7 linked regions of the Homo sapiens genome follow. The protein of the gene in region 1 purifies or fractionates together with the protein of each later gene. This does not show direct contact. Each region holds a gene or a part of one and is shown in the gene's direction. Other genes may lie near its edges.

Evidence for each region.
Region 2: the proteins of MAP3K7 (region 1) and IRAK1 purify together in Homo sapiens (affinity purification with western blotting; 5 studies listed by BioGRID). This does not show direct contact.
Region 3: the proteins of MAP3K7 (region 1) and RIPK1 purify together in Homo sapiens (affinity purification with western blotting; 5 studies listed by BioGRID, with this or other methods). This does not show direct contact.
Region 4: the proteins of MAP3K7 (region 1) and RIPK2 purify together in Homo sapiens (affinity purification with western blotting; 4 studies listed by BioGRID). This does not show direct contact.
Region 5: the proteins of MAP3K7 (region 1) and SMAD6 purify together in Homo sapiens (affinity purification with western blotting; 2 studies listed by BioGRID). This does not show direct contact.
Region 6: the proteins of MAP3K7 (region 1) and CARD11 purify together in Homo sapiens (affinity purification with western blotting; 3 studies listed by BioGRID). This does not show direct contact.
Region 7: the proteins of MAP3K7 (region 1) and TGFBR1 purify together in Homo sapiens (affinity purification with western blotting; 3 studies listed by BioGRID). This does not show direct contact.

What each region holds. Positions count from the first base shown.
Region 1 is NC_000006.12:90,580,573-90,584,072, reverse strand, and holds part of MAP3K7 (mitogen-activated protein kinase kinase kinase 7), read left to right. Parts: intron 1-3,500. UniProt on the Homo sapiens protein: Serine/threonine kinase which acts as an essential component of the MAP kinase signal transduction pathway. Plays an important role in the cascades of cellular responses evoked by changes in the environment.
Region 2 is NC_000023.11:154,010,007-154,013,454, reverse strand, and holds the end of IRAK1 (interleukin-1 receptor-associated kinase 1), read left to right. Parts: intron 1-21; coding exon 22-412; intron 413-776; coding exon 777-926; intron 927-1,537; coding exon 1,538-1,596; 3' UTR 1,597-2,948; downstream 2,949-3,448.
Region 3 is NC_000006.12:3,109,994-3,113,493, forward strand, and holds part of RIPK1 (receptor-interacting serine/threonine-protein kinase 1), read left to right. Parts: intron 1-809; coding exon 810-962; intron 963-3,059; coding exon 3,060-3,346; 3' UTR 3,347-3,500. UniProt on the Homo sapiens protein: Serine-threonine kinase which is a key regulator of TNF-mediated apoptosis, necroptosis and inflammatory pathways.
Region 4 is NC_000008.11:89,767,816-89,771,315, forward strand, and holds part of RIPK2 (receptor-interacting serine/threonine-protein kinase 2), read left to right. Parts: intron 1-1,956; coding exon 1,957-2,114; intron 2,115-3,500.
Region 5 is NC_000015.10:66,715,736-66,719,235, forward strand, and holds part of SMAD6 (mothers against decapentaplegic homolog 6), read left to right. Parts: intron 1-685; coding exon 686-763; intron 764-1,273; exon of another isoform or gene 1,274-1,405; intron 1,406-3,500. UniProt on the Homo sapiens protein: Transforming growth factor-beta superfamily receptors signaling occurs through the Smad family of intracellular mediators. SMAD6 is an inhibitory Smad (i-Smad) that negatively regulates signaling downstream of type I transforming growth factor-beta.
Region 6 is NC_000007.14:2,935,868-2,939,367, reverse strand, and holds part of CARD11 (caspase recruitment domain-containing protein 11), read left to right. Parts: intron 1-536; coding exon 537-689; intron 690-1,335; coding exon 1,336-1,461; intron 1,462-2,133; coding exon 2,134-2,331; intron 2,332-3,500. UniProt on the Homo sapiens protein: Adapter protein that plays a key role in adaptive immune response by transducing the activation of NF-kappa-B downstream of T-cell receptor (TCR) and B-cell receptor (BCR) engagement.
Region 7 is NC_000009.12:99,146,613-99,150,112, forward strand, and holds part of TGFBR1 (TGF-beta receptor type-1 isoform 1 precursor), read left to right. Parts: intron 1-1,041; coding exon 1,042-1,172; intron 1,173-2,567; coding exon 2,568-2,693; 3' UTR 2,694-3,500. UniProt on the Homo sapiens protein: Transmembrane serine/threonine kinase forming with the TGF-beta type II serine/threonine kinase receptor, TGFBR2, the non-promiscuous receptor for the TGF-beta cytokines TGFB1, TGFB2 and TGFB3.

The sequences.
Region 1 (3,500 bases):
TAATTAGAAACTGTAAAAAAAATAATAATTCAACTACAGGCCAAATATGCAGCCATTTAGTAGATACATATTTCTAAGACATTAGCTGATCTTGCATTTCTAATATTGTAACTCAGTAGTATTAGTTTGGCACATCTTAGATTCAATTCAATTCAGTCAAATTAGGTAAGGTCTCAGCCTCAGAAATCTGCCTAGGTACTTTTTAAACATCATTTAGTGTTTACCATCTAGAACTGGCTGTAGAGAATGTTGGAATAAAAGAGGGGATGGGTTGCAAGAAGTGTTACACAGGGTAGTATAGTGGAAAGTGTTCTGGACTGAAAAAGAAAATTTAGATGCTGTACTGATTCTGCCATAATATATTTTTGTAACTTTGAGGAAGTCACCACATTTTTCTGGGCCTGTGGTTACTCATGTAAACTGACTGAACAAGATCATTTAAGGTCTTTTCCAGTTCTAAAATGAAAACACATTCATGTTTTCCAGTATTTAACTGTTTTCTATAGTAAGCTTAGCAGTTCTTTAAAGACTGATCATGGTCTCCTATAGAATTCAGTTGGTGACCAACTAATCCTGGGTTGACAGGGCAAATGATATCCCATTGTACAGATATTGACAAGCAGTCATAGAGTTTGACTTGCCAGAAGCCGCATGCCTAAGTAAATGGTAAAGCTGGGAATTGAATATGAGACTTCTCACTTGTGAGTCAGTTGCCCTTTCCACTGGATTTACAGTGTCACTCAGTACTTTCTGAAGTACTCTATAACCAAACCTAATATGGGAAAGGGGAAACAAAATACTGATTTCCTTTTTAGTGTAGTTGGTCCTGAGCATTTAATGAACATTCTCATCTGTGCGTAATACTCTGAGGTACTATAAAAGATAAATAGGGCTTGGTGCGGTGGCTCACACCTGTAATCCGAGCACTTTGGAGGGCCAGTGCGGGCAGATCACTTGAAGCCAGGAGTTCAAGACCACCCTGGCCAACACGGAGAAACCCCGTCACTACTGAAAGTACAAAAATTAGCTGGGTGTGGTGGCACAGGCCTGTAATCCCAGCTACTTGAGTGGCTGAGGCATGAGAATCGTTTGAACCCAGGAGGCAGAGGTTGCAGTGAGCTGAGATCATGCCACCGCACCCTAGCCTGGACAACAGAGGGAGACTCTGTCTCAAAAAAAAAAAAAAAAAAAAGATGATAGAAGAATCCTAGGATTACCTCCTTAAAATGTCTGACTTAGTATGATATCAGACTGGAGTAAACACAGAACAGTTAACTATAGACCACAAATTTAAAACTGAATATAGTGTAAATTAAACACTTAAGCCATAATTTGAAAATAGAGTTAATCACAGAAGGTTCCATTGAGTAGGGACAAGTTTAAAACTAGGTTTTGAATAAAGTGACCATCGTGGGTTGGGAAAGTCACTAAGATGAATTTTCTTTGTAGTTGTTCCTCTGCCTAAAGCGCTGTTCCCCCATAACTTAAGATGACTGACTCCTCACCAGTCAAGTCCCACCTCAAATGTTATTAACACTTCCTTAGAGAAGCATTCCCTGAACAACCTAGATCTTTTGTCATTTCTATTATCTTTCATGGTACTTACCAGTAACTGAAATTGTGTCTCTCCTTCAGCAAAATGTAAGGCGCTTTATTCACTTTTGTAACCCCAATGCCTAGAACCTAGAAGGTTCTCTATACATATTTGTTCAATGAGTACATGAAAGTATCACAGCATAATCATAAGAATTAAATGCCCATCTTGTTCTCTTATATTACATGTGATAAAATAGGAGCTGAGTTATGCGATTTGGCTAAGGCAACACGTTAGAAATGAGATCCGAGTCTTGTTTTAATGTCGACTCTATTATAGTTAGCAGATACTTTTGTTTAGCAGGGATAAAAAATGCTGTAAAGGGCCAGATGCTATGAGTAAGCCACGTATGGTAGGTCTTTACTACAGAGTGCTAAAAAGACACTATTTACAATGGTTGCTTTTGAAAAGGGAGACCCATAATGCTGACCTCAACTATAGTGTAGGAACAAAGCTATAGTATTGGACACATAAAATTACTGCAGCATTTGTATATATTCTTCAGCTTTGTTAAGGAGACACACAAAAGTTTTGTTTTAAAAGCTAAAATATGCTACAAAGAGGAGATATAGATAGAACTTAAACAGTTATATGTACTTTGTAGGTTTAAGTTATAAATATATGGGGAATTGGTATTAGAGAAAAACCTAATTTATAGTGGTCTAAACAAACTGAGTACATAGATTTGTTAGTCACTATTTAATTATGGATACCTAAAATAATCAATACATTCTTTCATGTGAAAGTGACCACTGATTTCAGTAGAAATCTGGAATTACTATAGTTAAGAGGTAGCTACAGAGATAATTTTTGCATTGTACACGTGTAGCTTAAAAGATAGCATGAGCATATTATTTGAAATAAAAGCCTAGAAAATGGGTGAGATGTACTGTGGCAGGTATTAAAAGACTGCATGAAACATTCAGAAGAAAGTTTGAATAATCAAAGCTTTACTTTTATGTTATCAAATCCATCTTGTCAGCAGATGGCAGTTCCACTCTGCCACAGTTTATTAATAGATATTGAAGTTCTAACATAGTTGGAGGCTCCAAGTCCTAACTAATAAATGTATGATCTATGCTTGTTCTGTCTTGTTCCGCATTTCCAGCCAGAACAATGCCAGCATCACCAGGGGTCCATTCAGATAGTTCATAGAACAGGGCCAAATGAAACTGACAGCTGTAGTCACTGAACTAAAAATAACATGAATTCAGAACAATTAAAAGAATTATTTAATAATAAATTAAGAGCACAAAGGCATACATCCTTTTCCATTTAGGTTAGGTGTGTGTTTGGTTGTTTTCTTTAACATGACTTGTCTGAAGGAATGGAGTCATCTTACATCATAAAGAAATTAATTTTTAAAGGAATTTCTTTAAAAATAACACACAAACACACAAAACCTGATTTTTGTTTTTGTGCCTTTCAATAGTAGTTGCATGGAAATGTTCTATATACCATCTCATATTCTTCTGTATTTTTTATTAAGAAATTAAATTTAAATCTACTTAATTGTATGAGACTAAAGTTGTAGACCCAAAACAAAGAGGTTTCAACCATAGGGGGAGAAATGCTTATCATAAAGTAATTAATCAAAAACATTTTGATTTAGAAAACATTCATAAATTTAGAAGGAAATATTTCCAAATTGACCTCCCTTTTAAAACCAAAGTCCTTTTTGCATTCCTCTGTTTTTTACAAATGAAGGATTATGAAGAATATCTGAAATATTTATTTGTATGTCACCATTTTAGTTGGATGTGTGTGATGGGGAAATACTTGTAACTTGATATGTTCTCTTTTTTACTCTTGATGAAAATTCATCTTTGGGGAAAAAACAGTCATTTAAAATAATGTTGGGCTAGGTACGGTGGCTCACACCTGTAATCCCAACACTTTGGGAGGC
Region 2 (3,448 bases), on another chromosome or scaffold:
GTCCCTCTTTTCCACTTGCAGGTGTACGAGAGGCTAGAGAAGCTGCAGGCAGTGGTGGCGGGGGTGCCCGGGCATTCGGAGGCCGCCAGCTGCATCCCCCCTTCCCCGCAGGAGAACTCCTACGTGTCCAGCACTGGCAGAGCCCACAGTGGGGCTGCTCCATGGCAGCCCCTGGCAGCGCCATCAGGAGCCAGTGCCCAGGCAGCAGAGCAGCTGCAGAGAGGCCCCAACCAGCCCGTGGAGAGTGACGAGAGCCTAGGCGGCCTCTCTGCTGCCCTGCGCTCCTGGCACTTGACTCCAAGCTGCCCTCTGGACCCAGCACCCCTCAGGGAGGCCGGCTGTCCTCAGGGGGACACGGCAGGAGAATCGAGCTGGGGGAGTGGCCCAGGATCCCGGCCCACAGCCGTGGAAGGTAGCTGGGGAGACGGGTTCCCAGGAGAGGGACCAAGGCCTCTTTGGGCCAAAGCCCCTGTAAGTCCCCACCCCAGCCTTCTAGAAGAGAACCAGGGCCAAATGTTCAGCTCACTGTGACCTTAGCAACCCTGGTTTCCCCTCCCCAGGCCACATCCTTCCCAGGTGGAGCTTGCTCTCCAGCCCTCCCCCCACCCCATTCCTGAAGGCTGGGAACAAGGAGGGCTCTGTCTGGTAGCCTGAGAGCTGGGCCCTGCCCTTGGACTTCTCTGAGGAATTCAGGCCTGAGGCCAGGGAGGCAGGGTGCTAGGCTGCGGGCTGGGGAGCCACAGCATGAGGCTAAGGGAGTGCCATCTCCACCCCAGGACTGGCCCTTGGCAGCTCTGCATCATCGTCGTCAGAGCCACCGCAGATTATCATCAACCCTGCCCGACAGAAGATGGTCCAGAAGCTGGCCCTGTACGAGGATGGGGCCCTGGACAGCCTGCAGCTGCTGTCGTCCAGCTCCCTCCCAGGTGCTGCCGCCCAGGCTGGCCTCTGGGGTGCTCAGGCGCATCCGTGTCAGCCCCAAAGAGCAGAGTGTCTGTCCCGACTGCGCTGAGGGCGTGGGGCAGCCGGGCAGGCCACTGGCTCTGGCGACCTCTAGAAGCCCAGCCGGCCCCACATGCCTCCCTTAGCAAGACCCTGGCCCACTCCTTCCCTCGCCTCCTGACAGTAGCACCTCCTTTAGCCCGAGGGTGCCTGCCCCACTCTGTGCTTTCAGGAAATAGGAAGCCCCAGCAGGAATTTTCCATCCCAGGTACTATTTGAAGAACCACTGCTTAGGAACCCTCAGCTGGGCGAGGTGGCTCATGCCTATAATACCAGCACTTTTGGAGGCCAAGATGGGAGGATCACTTGAGCCCAGGAGGTGGAGGCTACAGTGAGCTGTGATCAAGCCACTGCACTCCAGCCTGGGAGACAGTTAGACCCTGTCTCAAAAACAAATGAACAAACAAACAAAAACCCTCAATTCCCACGAACGCCCCAGGAGATAAGGGAGCATGGCCCAGGCCTTGAGCCAGGGCTTCTGGCAGTAGGGGAGCCTCCCCCATTTGCTAAGCGGACTTTCCTCTTCCTTCTGTAGGCTTGGGCCTGGAACAGGACAGGCAGGGGCCCGAAGAAAGTGATGAATTTCAGAGCTGATGTGTTCACCTGGGCAGATCCCCCAAATCCGGAAGTCAAAGTTCTCATGGTCAGAAGTTCTCATGGTGCACGAGTCCTCAGCACTCTGCCGGCAGTGGGGGTGGGGGCCCATGCCCGCGGGGGAGAGAAGGAGGTGGCCCTGCTGTTCTAGGCTCTGTGGGCATAGGCAGGCAGAGTGGAACCCTGCCTCCATGCCAGCATCTGGGGGCAAGGAAGGCTGGCATCATCCAGTGAGGAGGCTGGCGCATGTTGGGAGGCTGCTGGCTGCACAGACCCGTGAGGGGAGGAGAGGGGCTGCTGTGCAGGGGTGTGGAGTAGGGAGCTGGCTCCCCTGAGAGCCATGCAGGGCGTCTGCAGCCCAGGCCTCTGGCAGCAGCTCTTTGCCCATCTCTTTGGACAGTGGCCACCCTGCACAATGGGGCCGACGAGGCCTAGGGCCCTCCTACCTGCTTACAATTTGGAAAAGTGTGGCCGGGTGCGGTGGCTCACGCCTGTAATCCCAGCACTTTGGGAGGCCAAGGCAGGAGGATCGCTGGAGCCCAGTAGGTCAAGACCAGCCAGGGCAACATGATGAGACCCTGTCTCTGCCAAAAAATTTTTTAAACTATTAGCCTGGCGTGGTAGCGCACGCCTGTGGTCCCAGCTGCTGGGGAGGCTGAAGTAGGAGGATCATTTATGCTTGGGAGGTCGAGGCTGCAGTGAGTCATGATTGTATGACTGCACTCCAGCCTGGGTGACAGAGCAAGACCCTGTTTCAAAAAGAAAAACCCTGGGAAAAGTGAAGTATGGCTGTAAGTCTCATGGTTCAGTCCTAGCAAGAAGCGAGAATTCTGAGATCCTCCAGAAAGTCGAGCAGCACCCACCTCCAACCTCGGGCCAGTGTCTTCAGGCTTTACTGGGGACCTGCGAGCTGGCCTAATGTGGTGGCCTGCAAGCCAGGCCATCCCTGGGCGCCACAGACGAGCTCCGAGCCAGGTCAGGCTTCGGAGGCCACAAGCTCAGCCTCAGGCCCAGGCACTGATTGTGGCAGAGGGGCCACTACCCAAGGTCTAGCTAGGCCCAAGACCTAGTTACCCAGACAGTGAGAAGCCCCTGGAAGGCAGAAAAGTTGGGAGCATGGCAGACAGGGAAGGGAAACATTTTCAGGGAAAAGACATGTATCACATGTCTTCAGAAGCAAGTCAGGTTTCATGTAACCGAGTGTCCTCTTGCGTGTCCAAAAGTAGCCCAGGGCTGTAGCACAGGCTTCACAGTGATTTTGTGTTCAGCCGTGAGTCACACTACATGCCCCCGTGAAGCTGGGCATTGGTGACGTCCAGGTTGTCCTTGAGTAATAAAAACGTATGTTGCAATCTCGGGCTCTACTTGTGGACTTTGTTGCACCGAAAGCCTTGAGCTTTCCTGATGCCTTACACTTCAGGGTTCTTGAGCGTCCAGGGTCTTGTTACTACTCTGGGCTGGCCACACCCAGCACTTCCCGTGTCAGGTTTTTCCTGATGTAGTCCATGTTTTTTATGCTATTCTAAATGGTATCTTTGATTTTCTAGTTCATCATGATATTATACAGAAATGCAATTGATGCTGGGCACGGTGGCTCACGCCTGTGATTCCAGCGCTTTGGGAAGCTAAGGCGGGCAGATCACTTGAGGCCAGGAGTTTGAGACCAGCCTGGGCAACATGGCGAAACCCCGTCTCTACAAAAAGTACAAAAATTAGCCAGGCATGGTGGTGCATGCCTGTAGTTTGAGCTACTCAGGAGGCTGACCCAGGAGGATAGTTTGAGCCCAGGACGTTGAGGCTGCAGTGAGCCATGATTCCACCACTGCACTCCAGCCCGGGCAACAGAGGGAGA
Region 3 (3,500 bases), about 87 Mb from region 1:
TGTAGCTAGACCACAGTTGGGTTATCCACTCATCTGCTCATGGGTGCCTGGCTTACTTCCACCTTTTAGCTATTGTGAATAATGCTGCAGTGAACACGTGGGTAGAAATATTTCTTCAACACCCTGTTTTAGTTCTTTTGGGTATATACTCAGAAACGGAATTGCTGGATCATATGGTAATTCTATCTTTAATTTTTTTGAAGAATCACGATTTTTTTTTTTTTTTTTTTTTGAGACAGACTCTCACTCTATCACCAGGCTGGAGTGCAGTGGCACGATCTTGGCTCACTCTGCAAGCTCCGCCTCCTGGGTTCAAGTGATTCTCCTGCCTCAGCCTCCTGAGTAGCTGGGATTACAGGCACCCACCACCACGCCTGGCTAATTTTTGTATTTTTAGTAGAGAAGGGGTTTCACCATGTTGGCCAGGCTGGTCTTGAACTCCTGACCTCAGGTGATCACCTGCATCAGCCTCCCAAAGTGCTGGGATTACAGGTGTGAGCCACCGCACCTGGCCCACTATACTCTTTATAGGAGCAGCTGCACCATTTCACATTCCCACCAGCAGTGCACAAGGGCTTCATTTTTTCCACATCTTTGTCAATATGTGTTATTTCTTTTTTTTTTTTTAATCATAGGCATCCTAATGGGTATGAGGTGGTTTAGCCAGATTTGAAAGAAGAAAAGTTTAAAGGGTGGCATAGGATAATTAACTTAATGTTTGGCATAAAGCCCTGCTTTTTTGCCATGCTGTATTTTTTTCTCTTGCTTTTGATCTAGAATTACTTACCTGTGTGTTTCTCTCTATGCAGATGAATCTATAAAATATACCATATACAATAGTACTGGCATTCAGATTGGAGCCTACAATTATATGGAGATTGGTGGGACGAGTTCATCACTACTAGACAGCACAAATACGAACTTCAAAGAAGAGCCAGCTGCTAAGTACCAAGCTATCTTTGGTAAGATACCCTGGAAGGACTCAACGCCTAGCAACCTTGAACTTTCTTACTTGTGAGAAGGACATAGTGGAATCTTAAAATTTCTCTGATAATTCTTCTTGAAAGTTTTCTTATGTTACTTCTGCAAAATATCTTTGTAATTTCCATATAATTCCTTTGTCATTTATTTATTTTTAATATGGAGATAATCACAGTATTTAATTTATGGATTTGTTGTGAAAATTAAATGAGTTGATATGTATAAAAAGCTTAGAACACTGCCTGGCACATAGTAAGTTCTATAAAAAGTGTTAAACTTTCATCATCATCATCATCAGTATTACTTCTCAGACCCAGAAGAAATAGCTGTGTCAGGCCCTCATCGAAGGAGATCCTGTAAAAGATAGAAGACTGTGCCCTCCACAGCACTTCTGTAATAAAATCAAGAGGGCTATCTCTTATAGGGTTCTATGGTGCAGCCCATAATGCTAATCCCAAAGTACAGTCTGGAAAAAGTCATGAGGCCAAAACGACTTGATTAAGAACTCAGCTTTCTAATTAACCATGGGATTGGCGCTTTTTTTTTTTTTTTCTGTAAAGGAACCAATAGTAAATGTTAGGCCCTGCTGGCTTTGAGGTCTCTTGGAACTACTCACCTCTCTTATTGTAGTGCAAAAGCAACCACAGACAATATGTACATGAATGAGCACGGCTGTGTTCCAATAAAAGTGGATTTACAAATGCTGGCAGGAGTCAGATTTGGCCCACAGGCCATAGTTGGCCAACCCCTGGTCTAACCCATTTGAAGGACAGCTTTTAAAATACCTAGAACAGAACTTGCGAATGGTCAGGGGCACCTGTGAGAATCTAATGAAACCCAGGATCTACCCCCTACAGAAATATTGACAAAATTTGGAAAATATCTTGGGAAGTTCTTGGACTGCTGACAATCTATAAGATATGGATAGAGAGAGAGCCACATCACAGAGGGCTGAGGAAAGAAGAGAGGTGGGAAGGAAGAATGAAATGTTTTCTTCCTTATATTCTGTTTAATGAGGTAGTGTGGGGATTAAGGAATTTTTTTTGTTGTGGTTGTTGTACATTTTCATTTGTTTCCTTTTATTATTTTTATGAAGGGCGAAGGGAAGGAACCAGTAGAAGGAGAGAGGTTATGGCTATTGGAGAAGAGGCAATGTCGGTCGGCAGTGGGGTGGAGTAAAGGAGGGGTTAGGGTCCAAAAACAGACCTTGAAGAGTATAGTTACCTCGTCGCTTGAAAGACAAGGAAGGCTTTGTAACTGAATGGGTTCACGCCTGCTGGACAATTCCTTGATTAAGTAAGAGGAAAGTGAACTGTTGGGCCGGGGTGGTGGTCAGGAGTTGAGCGGCTTTAACTCTGGCCAGATGTAAGCGGAGAATGTCTAAAAGGAACAAAAATGGTGGTTTTCCCTTTACACCCAGGAAGGTCTAATACCAACAGGATCACTGGCTAAGATTGACTAGAACACCCAACCTCGTAGCCACACAGGGGTTTTGTTCACAGAGCCATCAGCTGTGGCTCAGGGATGTGTCTACTAGGAGGAAGGAATGCCTTATTCTTTTTTGTTTTGTTTTTGAGACAACATCCTGCTCTGTGGCCCAGGCTGAAGTACAGGGGCACAGTCATGGCTCACTGCAGCCTCGAACTCCTGAGTTCAAGTGATCCTCCTGTCTCAGCCTCCTCAGTAACTGGGACTACAGGCATGTGCCACCATACCCAGCTAATTAAAAAAAATTTTTTTTTTGGTAGAGACAGGTTCTTGCTGTGTTGCCCAGGACTGGTCTAGAACTCCCGGGTTCAAGTGATCCTCCTGCCTTGGCCTCCCAAAGTGTTGGGATTATAGGCATGAGCCACCACGCCAGGCCGGGAATGCCCTATTCTAATTCACATAAAGACTCCATGTGGGCTAGCAGGCATGTGAAATGTCTGCCAGTGCATCAACAGCTATATAACTAAGAAGTTATCTTTTTCACTGTCTTCTGGTACTCTTCATTTCACTTGGGTTTTTTAGCAATTCAGGAAGCTGGAATGTTTGAATGGGTTTTAGCTTGATACCTTCTTCTTTTTCCCATTTGGCAGATAATACCACTAGTCTGACGGATAAACACCTGGACCCAATCAGGGAAAATCTGGGAAAGCACTGGAAAAACTGTGCCCGTAAACTGGGCTTCACACAGTCTCAGATTGATGAAATTGACCATGACTATGAGCGAGATGGACTGAAAGAAAAGGTTTACCAGATGCTCCAAAAGTGGGTGATGAGGGAAGGCATAAAGGGAGCCACGGTGGGGAAGCTGGCCCAGGCGCTCCACCAGTGTTCCAGGATCGACCTTCTGAGCAGCTTGATTTACGTCAGCCAGAACTAACCCTGGATGGGCTACGGCAGCTGAAGTGGACGCCTCACTTAGTGGATAACCCCAGAAAGTTGGCTGCCTCAGAGCATTCAGAATTCTGTCCTCACTGATAGGGGTTCTGTGTCTGCAGAAATTTTGTTTCCTGTACTTCATAGCTGGAGAATGG
Region 4 (3,500 bases), on another chromosome or scaffold:
TGAAGATAGCTATGAGCTGTCTCCCAAACCCTCACGTACAAGTGCATTTTATCCATCTCCCTGATAAATACCCTTTAGTTCCTTCAACTCGTTTTCTTATTACATGGATTTTAATCCTTGGTGCTATGTAGATGCATCATTTTGTTTAAATCTCACTTAAATGTTGATCGTCAGAACTGAACACAATACTATTTTTGGTGCGGTTTGATGAATGCAGACTTTAGTGAAAGTGTCATTTCCTTGGCCCTAAATACTTAATAGTTCCTTAATAATTCATCAGCTTTCCAGGGGTAGTCATATCACATAGTTCAAATTGGGCTTAGTGTCAACAAAAAACCCTTGGAGGTTCTTTTTGCCACGTATCGTTGCTTAAGCCACCTCTTCTTAAGCAACAAAGTACACAAAATAATGTACTTTGCAGAATACTTTCTAGATATGATCAAATTTTATCTTGTTAGATTGGAGCAATTGCTTCAGTCTCTTAAGACCTTTTTGAATGTTATTTCTATAATCCAAAGGTTTTAAGTTTCTCTCCAAGTTTTGTGTGATGCTGAAATTTAATTAGCTAATTTTTTGTATCTTTAAGTCATGATTAAATATGAACCAGTACAGAGCTTGAATCAGAGCTGTATCACATGGCCATAAGAACCTTCATCTGGGTCAATATCAGTCCTTTTGTTAATCCGCGCTTTTGGAGAACACTCATTCAGTTTGTCTGGAATACTCCTAAAAGTGCTATTATACAGCCCATATTTCTTCATTCTGTCCTTAAAAATTTTTCTGAAAGTCTTTGCTTAACTGCTTTTCTCAGCTGTTCTCATGACTTAGTCATCTTGGTCCTTTTCTGTGAATTCAATTTTAAAATTCTTGATTATTTTTATTTTTTTTCTTAAATTGACTCTTTTATTGTAGCAAATGAATGAAAAATTCATTTATTCTACCCCTCCTTTTTGGGAATGGAGGCCATAATTTTTTTTATCTCAAATTCATCTAAATGCTAATAAAAATTATGTATTTTGTTAAAATTGGTAAAAAATATAGGAGGTAAACAATGGAAACAAATGATGTGCTGCATGGAGCTCATTTCACTCTGCTGAATTCTAAAGTATGCAGTAAAATATTTTAAGTAATTTCAGTGTCTTTTAGGATTTCCCATACTCCCTTGTCAATTAAATATTATTTCTGTTCTTACATTTTGTCTTACATTTTTAAAAAATAAAGTAAAAAATAAGGAAGCTTTTAAATATTTAGTTATAAGATACTGTATAATATGTGCATAAGATTTACAACTGAAGCAAAACTGTACAGGACATATCAAAGGCACAGAATATTGTCACTGATAATTCTTTAGGCACCCATTGTATTGGACATAAATATGTTTTCTTTGCAATTATACTGTTTCCATGAAATACTTCTTTTAGTGATCAGCATAAAATTGTATAATAATTACCTTTACAATTTTGAGATTTAGTGTATTTCTTAATTTAAGGATGCTACCTTTAGGGCATTATTAATACAACTGTATAAACCAGAATTGTAAACAATGACCAGTGACAATTGCATGAGATGTGAGTAGACTTGGCAGCTCTGTGAGATGTAGGAAGCACATGGTATCAAGCTATATGTCATGAAAAGTAAGGTGTGCAAGGTACACACTCATTGAGAATATCAGACAAAAAATGCCTCTGCTCAATTTTCAAAAATTAGTCTCTCTTTTGAAATTTGTAATGTTATATTAAACTTTAACTCAGTATGTATTGCTCCTAGAGTTATTTGGCTCAGCAGTGTGGAATTTAATTTTGTAAGAAGTTGGGGGAATATACAGAAATAAAATATTAAAATATATTACATTTTCTCTGGTTTGATATCTAAATACAGTGAATATACAAAAAGATAGTTGACTTTTGGACTTTTTAAAGAGGAAATTTCTTAATTATTTGCTCTTGTCCCTTACAGATTGCAGATTTTGGTTTATCAAAGTGGCGCATGATGTCCCTCTCACAGTCACGAAGTAGCAAATCTGCACCAGAAGGAGGGACAATTATCTATATGCCACCTGAAAACTATGAACCTGGACAAAAATCAAGGGCCAGTATCAAGCACGATATATATAGGTAGAGTAAAGTTGCTTCTGCTCAGATTTAACCTTGTCTCAGACACAAAATTAGTCAACCAGAATTTTGAAGCTACATTTTAAACTGTGATTTTTATTCTTCTCTCATAATTGTGGTGAAAATAAACTTGAGGCCCCACGGTGATTAATATTTTTCAAATTAAGGAAATTTAATGATTTGCTTTAAGAAACTTTTACATCCTTTAAGAAATTTTAAAGCATCTCTTCTTATCCTATCAATTTATAATATAATAGTTAAGGATTTTTATCATATGTGACTTGGAAATGCAGAGGGAAACAGTGGTTCCTAACATTTTAGCTTTAGGTTTCTCAACCTGTTCAACCTTTTAGCTTTTGATATCTATATATCTTTTTAGATAAATAGACAAACTCTTAATCACACTGGGGATATTTCTATTTAAAGAATCCCTAATATTTGTATATGTGTGAATTTTTTATACAACAAATCAATGGGTTTGATAAGATCATATTTTCATATTTCAGATGCATATTACTTATAATCTCATAATGCAGTAATAAGCATAACACATTGTTATTGACACTGGTTATTTAACCAGAATAAAAGGAAGATGATTATTTACACAGGTTTAGGAGATGGGGACATTCACCTCATGTATAAGTTACTCTTATCTCTTTTAATATACTAATGAATGCAAAAGCAGACTCTCTAAGTTTGCTCTGAACACATTTTATAGTCCTTTAAATGGCTTTTTGCCATCTTTAATAAATAATTTGTTAATGAATCATTTTAGGAATGAATGCTATATCTCTACCAGAAAACTATATATTTAATTAAATTGCATATTCCTTTTCTTCAAAAGCATTTTAATTTTTGTTATTTCTCATTAAAACCAAAGCCAGCCAATCCATTTTAGTGGCTGCACTAAAACAATTCATACAGTGTCTTTTACATTCACATTGTATGAATATAAGAAACTGTCCTTTTATATTTTGTTTTCTGATATTTTTAATTCATTCTGAATGATGTACTGAGGGGAGGAGAAATGTATTTATAGCTTCCTAAGGTAGAGATCATGTTCTACCCAACAATTCTTAAAGCTGGTTTGATTCTATAAAAATGGGCCAATAAATCTGCCAGTCATTCATTTTGTGAATTTTCCCTTTATGTTCAATTTCAATATTCTCTGTCAGGGAAAAATGAGGAAATATTATTCCTTCATTTGGGTAGGAATTCCCTCTGTACTCCTCGCTCTCCCTGTAACACAAGGTGTTAGTAGTAATAAATTCTATGTGTCCATTTTGAATGCATGGTTAATGTTGGGGTGTGGCAAAATTCTTATATCCTATTTAACCATTTATTCTAATTATAAACTCTATGCAGCTTAACCCTGTAATTGACATCTGA
Region 5 (3,500 bases), on another chromosome or scaffold:
ATGTACATATGAAGTACTTAAAACTACTTAAAAAAAAAAAAAAAAAGAACGCCTTAAAAAAAAACAGTCCAGGCATTAAAAGTTGCTCTTGTGAGCAGGTTTGGATGTTAGGGAGTGGGGGAGGGGAGAGAAAAAACAAAGTTAATCTGGGAGCAAATGCTTGAGCCCTTAATTAGAGGGGTGTAAGCGGGACAGAGTGAGGACGGCTGGTGACTTGTTAAAACAGTTTCCCCAGCCCTAGCGGGAGGGAGGAAGGAAGGAAGGAAGAAAGGAAGGAAGGAAGCAAGAAGGAACAACTTCAAGAATTTTAATGGTTGTAATTAAGTACAGCAACTATGAATTGTTTAGGGGCTTAATTTAACCTTACCCACGGAGGCTCCAAGTTGCTACTTGCTCGGTCCCCTGAACTTGGGTTATTTCTGTGGTCAGGGCAATGGCAGCGTTTTCAGGTACCAGCTTCACCACAGTCAGCACTTTCCAGAAGAGTTCCTGGGCTGGCTGGTCTGGTCTGGGGTGATCCTGAGATGGGGTTACAGGGTGACATCAGAAAGTTGGGAGGGACATGCTGCCCTTTGCAAGCACACACATCCACACACGTGCACATGTACAGAGATGCATGAGAAAGAAGAAAAAAGAGAGCGCTGCCCCACGGCCAACTAAGTTCTCTTTTTCTTTCCTCCCACAGATCTGTCCGATTCCACATTGTCTTACACTGAAACGGAGGCTACCAACTCCCTCATCACTGCTCCGGGTGAATTCTCAGGTCAGCATTTTTTCTTGTGCATTGCTGTTGTGTTGAAATTTATCGAAGGGGACAGCTGCGGAGGGGGCTTGGTGGAAGACTTTTTGACTTCCCCTCTTCTTTTTGTTTCCCTTTTCCTCCAATCCTTGGATGGGAAGGTTGCCAATGTTTCAGTCCCTGGTGTTTTTGGGGTTAAGAACAGTCTGTATGAGTGAAACCTGAAGATAACTTTTAAAGCACCTGTCTACCACGTTTTAACCAGTTGTCTCTCTCTTGTCTCACTTGGAAATGATAAAAGCTCAGCACAGCTCTCCCTTTCGTGTTTAGAAAGAGATCCTCTTCCCCCAGCTGCGAGAGGCAGCAAAGTGGATGTGGTATACATTTGTCTTCCTCCTGTCCTCACTCCAGGGGAGGGACCAATGTGAAGGGTCAGAAGATTGGGGGAATTGGAGCCGGTTGAATGAGCTTGCAGGGAGGATCTGGCAAGTGAGGAGTTTGGCAAAGCCAGTGGTTTCTGTGTCTCTCCCTGAGCAGCAGATGCTGGGATAGGAAGCCGAGGGAACCGTGGTTTGGAGTCCTCTGTCCCCTGCAGTTAGAAGCTGGTCATAGGGACCCCTACATCCGGAGGAATACCTGAATCAAACTTTCCTTGAGAAATGAGAGGTTGGTGTTGGACTGGGGACATCGAGGGCCAGGACCAAGGTCTGTGGGGCCCTTTGGGAGCATGGCTGGTGGCATGGTGGCCTGGTGGCATGCTGGCTGGGACTGACAGCCCCTCAGGCTGGGGCTGCATACCTTGTGGGCATGTCTGGATGGCTGTGTGTCTCCATCTGAGACATTCTTCCCTCACCCCACATCCATGCCATGGTAGCAGTCGCCAAAATCATAGCCATTTATTGAGTGTATGCTATGGCCGGCACTCCACTTGGCCGCTTTATATGCATTCTCTTGGGACAGCCATGGGCTGTTTGTCTCCAGGGTTTGTGCTCTTCATCACTGTTTTGTCCCCCACTTTTCTGCAAGGGCCAAATGTACCTTCAATAAATGTATTTCCCCTAAAGTCCTGTCGTTCTTGATGTAGTCTCTCTGCAACTCTAAGGATAATGCAGCACTGGCTGCTCATGGCTGCCTGGCCATTTCCCCAGCCCAGAGCCTTTGCCTATCCATTCCCTTCTCACCAAGGCATGGGAGCTTACAAGAGTATGACTGTTGCAGAGATGGGGAGGCTAGAAGCGGAAGCAGGAATGTGACTTGCCATACAGGGTCCCACAATGGGCAACCTGGTCCTGGGCTGCGGTGGTCCTGGGGTCCAGGTCTTCTGGGTCCTATTCCTGAGTGCCTTCTGGTCTTTGGTGGCTCCCTTCGTTAGGGTACTTCCTTCTCTAATAATTTATTTCCCTCAAAGGCCCAACCAGATGAACGCAAGTTAAAATTTCAATCCTTTCTTTTTTCCTCTGCACCTACATGAGTGAAAGCCACATATAATTTTGAAGCAAGGGGCTTAAAAGTATTTCTGAATTTGCGATTTTGTGTCACTGCCAGCCCTCAGATGGATTCCATTGGCGTTGGTTGTCTGGACAGATGGGTAATTTTTTGGCATCCTCTTTCTCCCTATTGTTAATGATGGAAAGTCCGTGTGTGTGTGTGTGTGTGTGTGTGTGTGTGTGTGTGTGTCTGTGCATGTGCATACCTTACAGTTTTAAGGTGTTTGCAGATGTAATCTCATTTGATCCCAGCCATTCCAGAGGGGGCCTGGTGTGGCTCAGGCTGAAAGGACCAGACCCCCAAGCACTGTCAGGAGGCCTCTCCCTCAATCCAGAGGCTGGGAAGTCTCAGGAGATCCCAAGGCCATTAGTTTTGTTGCCTTTGGGCCTCACTGGGCCTGTGTCTGAGATTTCCGACCGGATATCCCAGAGCAGTCTTTGGTACTGGGTGGTGAGAAGGTCCCTGCTACTCATGACTGTGCAAAAGGACTGTGTTGGAAAATGTGTCCAATGCTTTAGAATTCTAAGGAGCGGAAGGATTTGGGGAGGAAATTGGGGATTTCCTATGCCAAGGACATTGAGTGAGGTCTTGAAGGACTTTGGTGTGAGTTCTGGGTGGCCTCAGTAGGTGAATGGAGTGTTTCCCTTTGTGTCATCCTGGTCCCTTCCAGGGATGCCATGCGTGGAATGTTCCCCGCTGAGGGCCCACTGTTAGCTTTTCCAGCTTGCTCTGTGCTGTAGGGATCTGAGGTCCTGTGGGTTAAGCTGCCCGCCTGCCTACTGGGAGCCCAAAGACATGGGGCTGTGCTGGCTGTCACACTGGAGGACATATTCAGGGAGGGAAATGGCCTAGGGGGTGACAGGTCTTGGTGGATGGTGAAGGCACGAGTCATTCTGCAAGATGGAATGCAAGGTTGTGTGGGAGGGCAGGACTGGAGGTGAAGTCAGAAAGGTGAGGGGCAGAGGTGGGCACAATGTGTTGGGCCAGGCCGGGGCATTTGATGTCTAAGGACAAATAATGATGATGGTGCTGATGATGACAGCAGTTGACATTTATCGACACTCACTACATGTCAGGCACTTTGCTAAGCGCCAGCATTCTCCATTTCATTGACTCCTTACCACAACCCTGTGAGACAGGTGTGATTCTCCCCATTTCATAGAGGAGGAAACTGAGGCTCATTGCTGGGCCAACTGCCCATAATGTAAGTGGAAGGCTTGGAACATGAGCCTGGACAGTGTGACTGCCTAGCTCACACCCTGAGGGCCCTGCC
Region 6 (3,500 bases), on another chromosome or scaffold:
TGCCTCCCCACACTTGTCATCGCCGAGTCACTTGTGGGCACAGAGGAGGAAGTTGCTGAGGAGTGACATCCCAAAACATATCTACAGGGCAAGAAAAAAAACATGCATCCTCCTGCTCCCTCCAGAACAGTCCCCCCAGGAGTGGCTGCCTGGTATATGAGGCTCTGTTTCAGAGCCGAGGATGAACCCAGCTTCTCCAGAACAGATTCCTTGATATTTCAGGGGCAGCATCTAAAAAGTGTTTCGGGTGCAGCAACTGCTTCTCTGCGCTCCGATAAGCGCCAGGGAGAACAAAAGGCCCAGGATACGCCCAAGCAAAAGCCAGTTTTCTGCTTCTTTCCAGGCAATAAACTTCTTAAATGCTAAGCTTCTTAGAGACCCCAGGGGACATACATCTCTTCTTGCCTCTACCTTCCAGGCACAAAACCTTCTGCTCTGTCCGTATCTGTTGCTGGTTCTTCTGTCCCCTGCCCTCCAGGACCACCTGGCTCCCCACCCCGACCCTGACCCTCTGAAACCTCCTCCCTCCCACCCAGGCCGGGAAGCGCAGCCTGCCAGACTCAGACAAGGCCATCCTGGACATCTTGGAACACGACCGCAAGGAGGCCCTGGAGGACAGGCAGGAGCTGGTCAACAGGATCTACAACCTGCAGGAGGAGGCCCGCCAGGCAGAGGAGCTGCGAGACAAGGTGGGAGTGGGGATCGCCCGCCCAGCGGTGCCCTCGGCCGGCCCCCTTCACACCAGGGGGCAGTGGTGTGTGTCAGCAGGACCTCCCTGACCCCACACTCCTTTCCAGGGACTAGATCAGACCCCTGGCATAAATCCCCTGTACCTCCCAGTATTCAGCCCCTGGCAGAAGCTGCAGTTTATCAACCAGATGAGGGCCTGGGGGTGGGAGCAATGTGGGCAGAGGGGAGGGTGAGGGCTTGGGATTGGGGGAACCCACATACCTGCCAAGGTGTGAGTCTCAGAGCCTCACCCACACCTTGCGGATTGCAGGATCCCAGATGTGCCGGCCACCCTTGGGCATGTACAAGCTATTGCACCAGCTTAGCACCTGTGTCCCCCTCCTGACTGAGATCACATTGTCCTCCCCTATGTTACCTGGTCTGTAGTGGGTTCACAACAATGCTGGGTTGATTGGTCTCCTACCTTGAGCCCCAACAGTCAGATAGTCGGTTCCCAGAAGGGCAGGCCATGTCCTGACCATGCCAGCTTAGGGAGGGACAGGCCAGCTCCAGCCAGCTGGCGGGAAGGCACGAGCAGAGAACAGCTTTCAGTCCTGACCTATTGATTGCTCGATGCGCATATTGATTTCTCTGTGTGGTTCACAGTACCTGGAGGAGAAGGAGGACCTGGAGCTCAAGTGCTCGACCCTGGGAAAGGACTGTGAAATGTACAAGCACCGCATGAACACGGTCATGCTGCAGCTGGAGGAGGTGGAGCGGGAGCGGGACCAGGTACAGGCACCACCTGCAGCGTGCAGGGCGGCGAGGCTGCACAGCGGGGCCCGCACCCCAGACCACCGGCTCCTTCAGAGTGTTTTGTCCAGTGCAACATCACTGACAATGCAGGGATCACTCCTGAATCCATCTTTCCCATTTCTGTTCCAAAGATGAATTCTAAAAGATGAATTCCAAAAGGCTTTTTTGGAAGTCACAGGCGTTTGGGTAGCAGGGGGATCCGAGCTGGGCTCCAGCAGCTCCCACGACCAAGCATGGTTCTTAAATGTTGTGTGTTCTCTCGGGTGAGAGGATGGGTTCAGATCCAGCCCTGTCATTCATAAGGTGTATGCCCATAGGCAAGCTGCCACCCCTGACCTCAGTGCCCTCATCTGTAAAATGGGGATAATTACGGTAGCACCGCCTCATAGGGACAGGCTGTGGCCTTCCAGGGACACTGCATCAAAGCTCTCAACACAGAGCCTGCCACTAGCAAGGGTCGGACCATCGGCTCTGTGATCGCGTTAATGAAGAAGGTAGTGACTGACACGCCCAGGGGTCAGACTGCAGACGAGAGCCACAGACGATGTGGCTGGCCCCTGGGTTGGGATGATGCCTGTCCCTGGGCCCAGCTGGATTTGGCTGGGGTGCAACCCCCAAAGCAGCCTTCGTCCCGCTTCTCCCTGGCAGGCCTTCCACTCCCGAGATGAAGCTCAGACACAGTACTCGCAGTGCTTAATCGAAAAGGACAAGTACAGGAAGCAGATCCGCGAGCTGGAGGAGAAGAACGACGAGATGAGGATCGAGATGGTGCGGCGGGAGGCCTGCATCGTCAACCTGGAGAGCAAGCTGCGGCGCCTCTCCAAGGACAGCAACAACCTGGACCAGGTGGGGCGGGACGGGCAGGACCCCACGCCTGAAGCCAGGTGGGCCCTGGTGCCCACTGAGGGCTGTGGCCAGTCCCCACCTCCCCGTGGAGACCCACACCTGAAGCCAGGTGCCCCCTGGCACCCACTGAGGGCTGTGACCAGTCGCCACCTCCCTGTGGGGCCCCAAACCAGAAGCCAGGTGCCCCCTGGCACCCACTGAGGGCTGTGACCAGTCGCCGCTTCCCTGTGCAATGAATGGCTCCTTGTCCTTTGTTTAGTTTTGTTTTGCTTTTGAGACAGGGTCTCACTCTGTCGCCCAGGCTGGAATGCAGTGGCACTATCACAGCTCACTGCAGCCTCAAACTCCTGGGCTCAAGCAGTCCTCCCACTTCAGCCTCCTGGGTAGCGGAACTAAAGGCACACACCACAATTCCTGACTAATTTTGTAATTTTTTTGTACAGACGAGGTCTCACTGTTTCCCAGGCTGGTCTTAAACTCCTATCCTCAAGCGATCCTCCCGCCTCAGCCTCCCAAAGAGCTGGAATTACAGCCGTTTGCCACTGTGCCCGGTTGGCTCTTCATATATTTGAAGCCGGAAGTTCCCTCCCACGCCCAGCATAATCCACATCTTTTACTGTTGTGTTTGTGTCTGTTTAGTGATGAGTGGAAGCCACTCATTTTGAAGTTAGAAGATGCAGGGTAGGGCTGGGCACAGTGGCTCATGCCTGTAATCTCAGCATTTTGGGAGGCTGAGGTGGGAGGATCGCTTTAGGGCAGGAGTTCAAGACCAGTCTGGGCAACAGAGCGAAAATTTTTAAAAATTTAAAAAATTAAAATTAAAAACATAAATAAGAAGATGCAGGGCGCCAGGTGCGAGGGTTCACGCCTGTAATCTCAGCACTTTGGGATGTCGAGGCAGGTGGATCACGAGGTCAGGAGTTCAAGACCAGCCTGACCAGCATGGTGAAACCCTGTCTCTACTAAAAATACAAAAAAATTAGCCAGGCGTGGTGGTGCGTGCCCATAGTCCCAGCTACTCGGGAGGCTGAGGCAGGAGAATCGCTTGAGCCCAGGAGGCGGAGGTTGCAGTGAGCCGAGATCACGCCACTGCACTCCAGCCTGGTGACAGAGCAAGACTCCATCTCAAAAAAAAAAAAGGCAAGCTTGACCTGGCCACTTCCTTGCTG
Region 7 (3,500 bases), on another chromosome or scaffold:
AATTGCTCTCCTCTCCCCCAGTAGTTTGTCATGAGCAGAAGTTGTTCAAGAATTGTCTTCTTTTTTTAATTGAATGAAATTATGTACAGTCCATTATCTGAAACAGGATGTCACCGAGTGCCAGAGAAAACAAAGGCGATGAAACCTTTGGGAGGGGACAGTGCCATGGTGTGCACATGCACAGCTCTAGCCTAGTGTATTCTCTTCCTGTTTCCATTTGAATCTGGAGACTCATCAGAACCCAACCCCTTGTTATATTGGAATATAGTTCTTTAGAATGGACAGCTGCTTGAGAGGCTCACCTAGGAAGCTGTTTCTAGCATGTACCTGGGTGTCAAACTTATTTTTTTTCTTTGAGATTGTGGTTATTTTCTCCAACTTGATAGTTACAGTTACATACACAGAATACAATTATGTTACCATTGTGTTGTATTCTAGAGTTAGTTTGTTTTAACTTCTAGCTTTTTAGATGGAGTACTTTTAATGTTTACTCAGGAAACAGTCTCTTAGGCTTGGGGACCTAGACTTGGCTGAGACCTAGTGCCTTAGGTTTTTGAAGCAGTGAGGGACAGAGTATTTCTCTGTATTGTAGTAAATAGGATATATTATTGACAGATGCAAGTAGAGAAAGGGACTTGGCACCTTAAACTTGCCTCATAAGATTCAAGTCTCACTGATAGGGTATATATATCCCTGTGCAAGTGAGAGCCTGTGCACTTACAGAATAGAATCTCATTTGCTGCACAATAGGGTTCTAGGGGAAAATGTCAATCTGGTCATCACAGCTCATAGTTTACTGTCATTTCAAATAGGCTTTATTGATCTCATGGCAATACTTAGTTTCAAGGTGTGGGTGGAATATCAACTCAGGGAAGTGGCTTGTGGATACAGATGTGGATGAGATAGAGAAAGCTGTAATCTCTGTTCCACATACCTACTTTAGTAATGAAACACTGTAATAGGTCTCTCAGGTGATCTTTTAATGCCTTGGCATTAGCTGAATAAATTCATCAAAATTTAATTTTTTTTAAACTGATACAGGAATTCATGAAGATTACCAACTGCCTTATTATGATCTTGTACCTTCTGACCCATCAGTTGAAGAAATGAGAAAAGTTGTTTGTGAACAGAAGTTAAGGCCAAATATCCCAAACAGATGGCAGAGCTGTGAAGTGAGTATTTCTTTTTGATATTAGGCAATTTTCTAAACTGCTTCTGCTTAGTAAGCAAAAGTTTGCTACTTTTCTTTAAGGAAAACTTTTCTTTAAGAATTTTCTTTTTCATAGCAGTCAAACCAATGTTTAAAAACAGAATAATTTGGTTTTCATATTCAATTGTAAGCACATTGAAAGGGCCATGGAACATTTGCAGTGGCCTTTAGTGTATCAGAACATAGTTTAGATCTGCCGGGCGAACTAAGGCACATATTTTTAAATGAATGCCTCCCTTCAGCCGGGGCAACCCAGAACACTAGACAGTTACCGGACATGAATGAGGAGCCCTGTATTCTAGACCAGCCTGGCTACCATTTCAAGGGTCTGACTCTGAACAAATCCCTTTAGTTCTCTGGACTTTAATATCCCTTTGCAAGGTGAGGAACTCAGATAAGGTGATTACAAAGGTGTTTCAAATGATTTTCCGTTTTATTCATCTGATTGCCCAGATAACCGTTAACCAGGAATTTAGGGAAAATGCTTTTTTCCAGCAGTATCTGAGCTGCTCAACTTCAGCTCTAACAAAAAGTTTTAGAAACGTTTTTGTAATTGTAAATTTAAAGATTCGTAAGATGAATTTTATTTAACCTCTCCTTAATTGCTAGCTGTTACTATTACAATATTGGTGAAGCAGAGCATATTCCTCCAGGTTTGAAGATTTGTAGCTTAAAAAGGCTATAAAAAGCTGTTCAGTTCAGTAGTTGATTTTACGTCTTAAACTATTGTAGGACTCAGCAGAACCTCTGATAAGCAAGAGAGCTTGCTACCTCCAACAAAATCACATCTCCAGGCCCAAATAAATAAAATGTATTTCAGCATGCTTAAGGAATTTGCATGTGACATAGTTTAATAAATGAGAGTGCTGCTAGATTTTGTCTTTTAGAAATTTGATCTACTTGGGAGGCTGAAGTGGGAGGATTGCTGGAGCCTGGGAGGTCAAGGCTGCAGTGAGCTGAGGGCATGCCATTGCATTCCACTTTGGGCGGCAGAGTGAGACCCTGTCTCAAAAAAAAAAAAAAGAAAGAAAAATTTGATGTGAATACTTCAAAGTACAAACTTAAAATTTCAGTGTGAGGTCAGATTTCTTCTTTGCTTTGCCCAGCTCTGGTTTAGGATTCGGCCTTTTCAGGTTTGCTAAATGAGTCACTCTTTGTCCACCTGCTTTCCAGCACTGGCACCAGTACCCTATTGATGGAAATTTATGTAATTTCTACTCATTTGCTATTACAAATAATGCTTAAACAATAACAAGTGTATATGTCATTTAAAAAGAAAATTTACACGTAAAAATTCTTATCCAGACCAATGGAAAATGGTGCATGCATTAATTTTTTTTTTTATATTTTCTTGTAGGCCTTGAGAGTAATGGCTAAAATTATGAGAGAATGTTGGTATGCCAATGGAGCAGCTAGGCTTACAGCATTGCGGATTAAGAAAACATTATCGCAACTCAGTCAACAGGAAGGCATCAAAATGTAATTCTACAGCTTTGCCTGAACTCTCCTTTTTTCTTCAGATCTGCTCCTGGGTTTTAATTTGGGAGGTCAATTGTTCTACCTCACTGAGAGGGAACAGAAGGATATTGCTTCCTTTTGCAGCAGTGTAATAAAGTCAATTAAAAACTTCCCAGGATTTCTTTGGACCCAGGAAACAGCCATGTGGGTCCTTTCTGTGCACTATGAACGCTTCTTTCCCAGGACAGAAAATGTGTAGTCTACCTTTATTTTTTATTAACAAAACTTGTTTTTTAAAAAGATGATTGCTGGTCTTAACTTTAGGTAACTCTGCTGTGCTGGAGATCATCTTTAAGGGCAAAGGAGTTGGATTGCTGAATTACAATGAAACATGTCTTATTACTAAAGAAAGTGATTTACTCCTGGTTAGTACATTCTCAGAGGATTCTGAACCACTAGAGTTTCCTTGATTCAGACTTTGAATGTACTGTTCTATAGTTTTTCAGGATCTTAAAACTAACACTTATAAAACTCTTATCTTGAGTCTAAAAATGACCTCATATAGTAGTGAGGAACATAATTCATGCAATTGTATTTTGTATACTATTATTGTTCTTTCACTTATTCAGAACATTACATGCCTTCAAAATGGGATTGTACTATACCAGTAAGTGCCACTTCTGTGTCTTTCTAATGGAAATGAGTAGAATTGCTGAAAGTCTCTATGTTAAAACCTATAGTGTTTGAATTCAAAAAGCTTATTTATCTGGGTAACCCAAACTTTTTCTGTTTTGTTTTTGGAAGGGTTTTTGTGGTATGTCATTTGGTATTC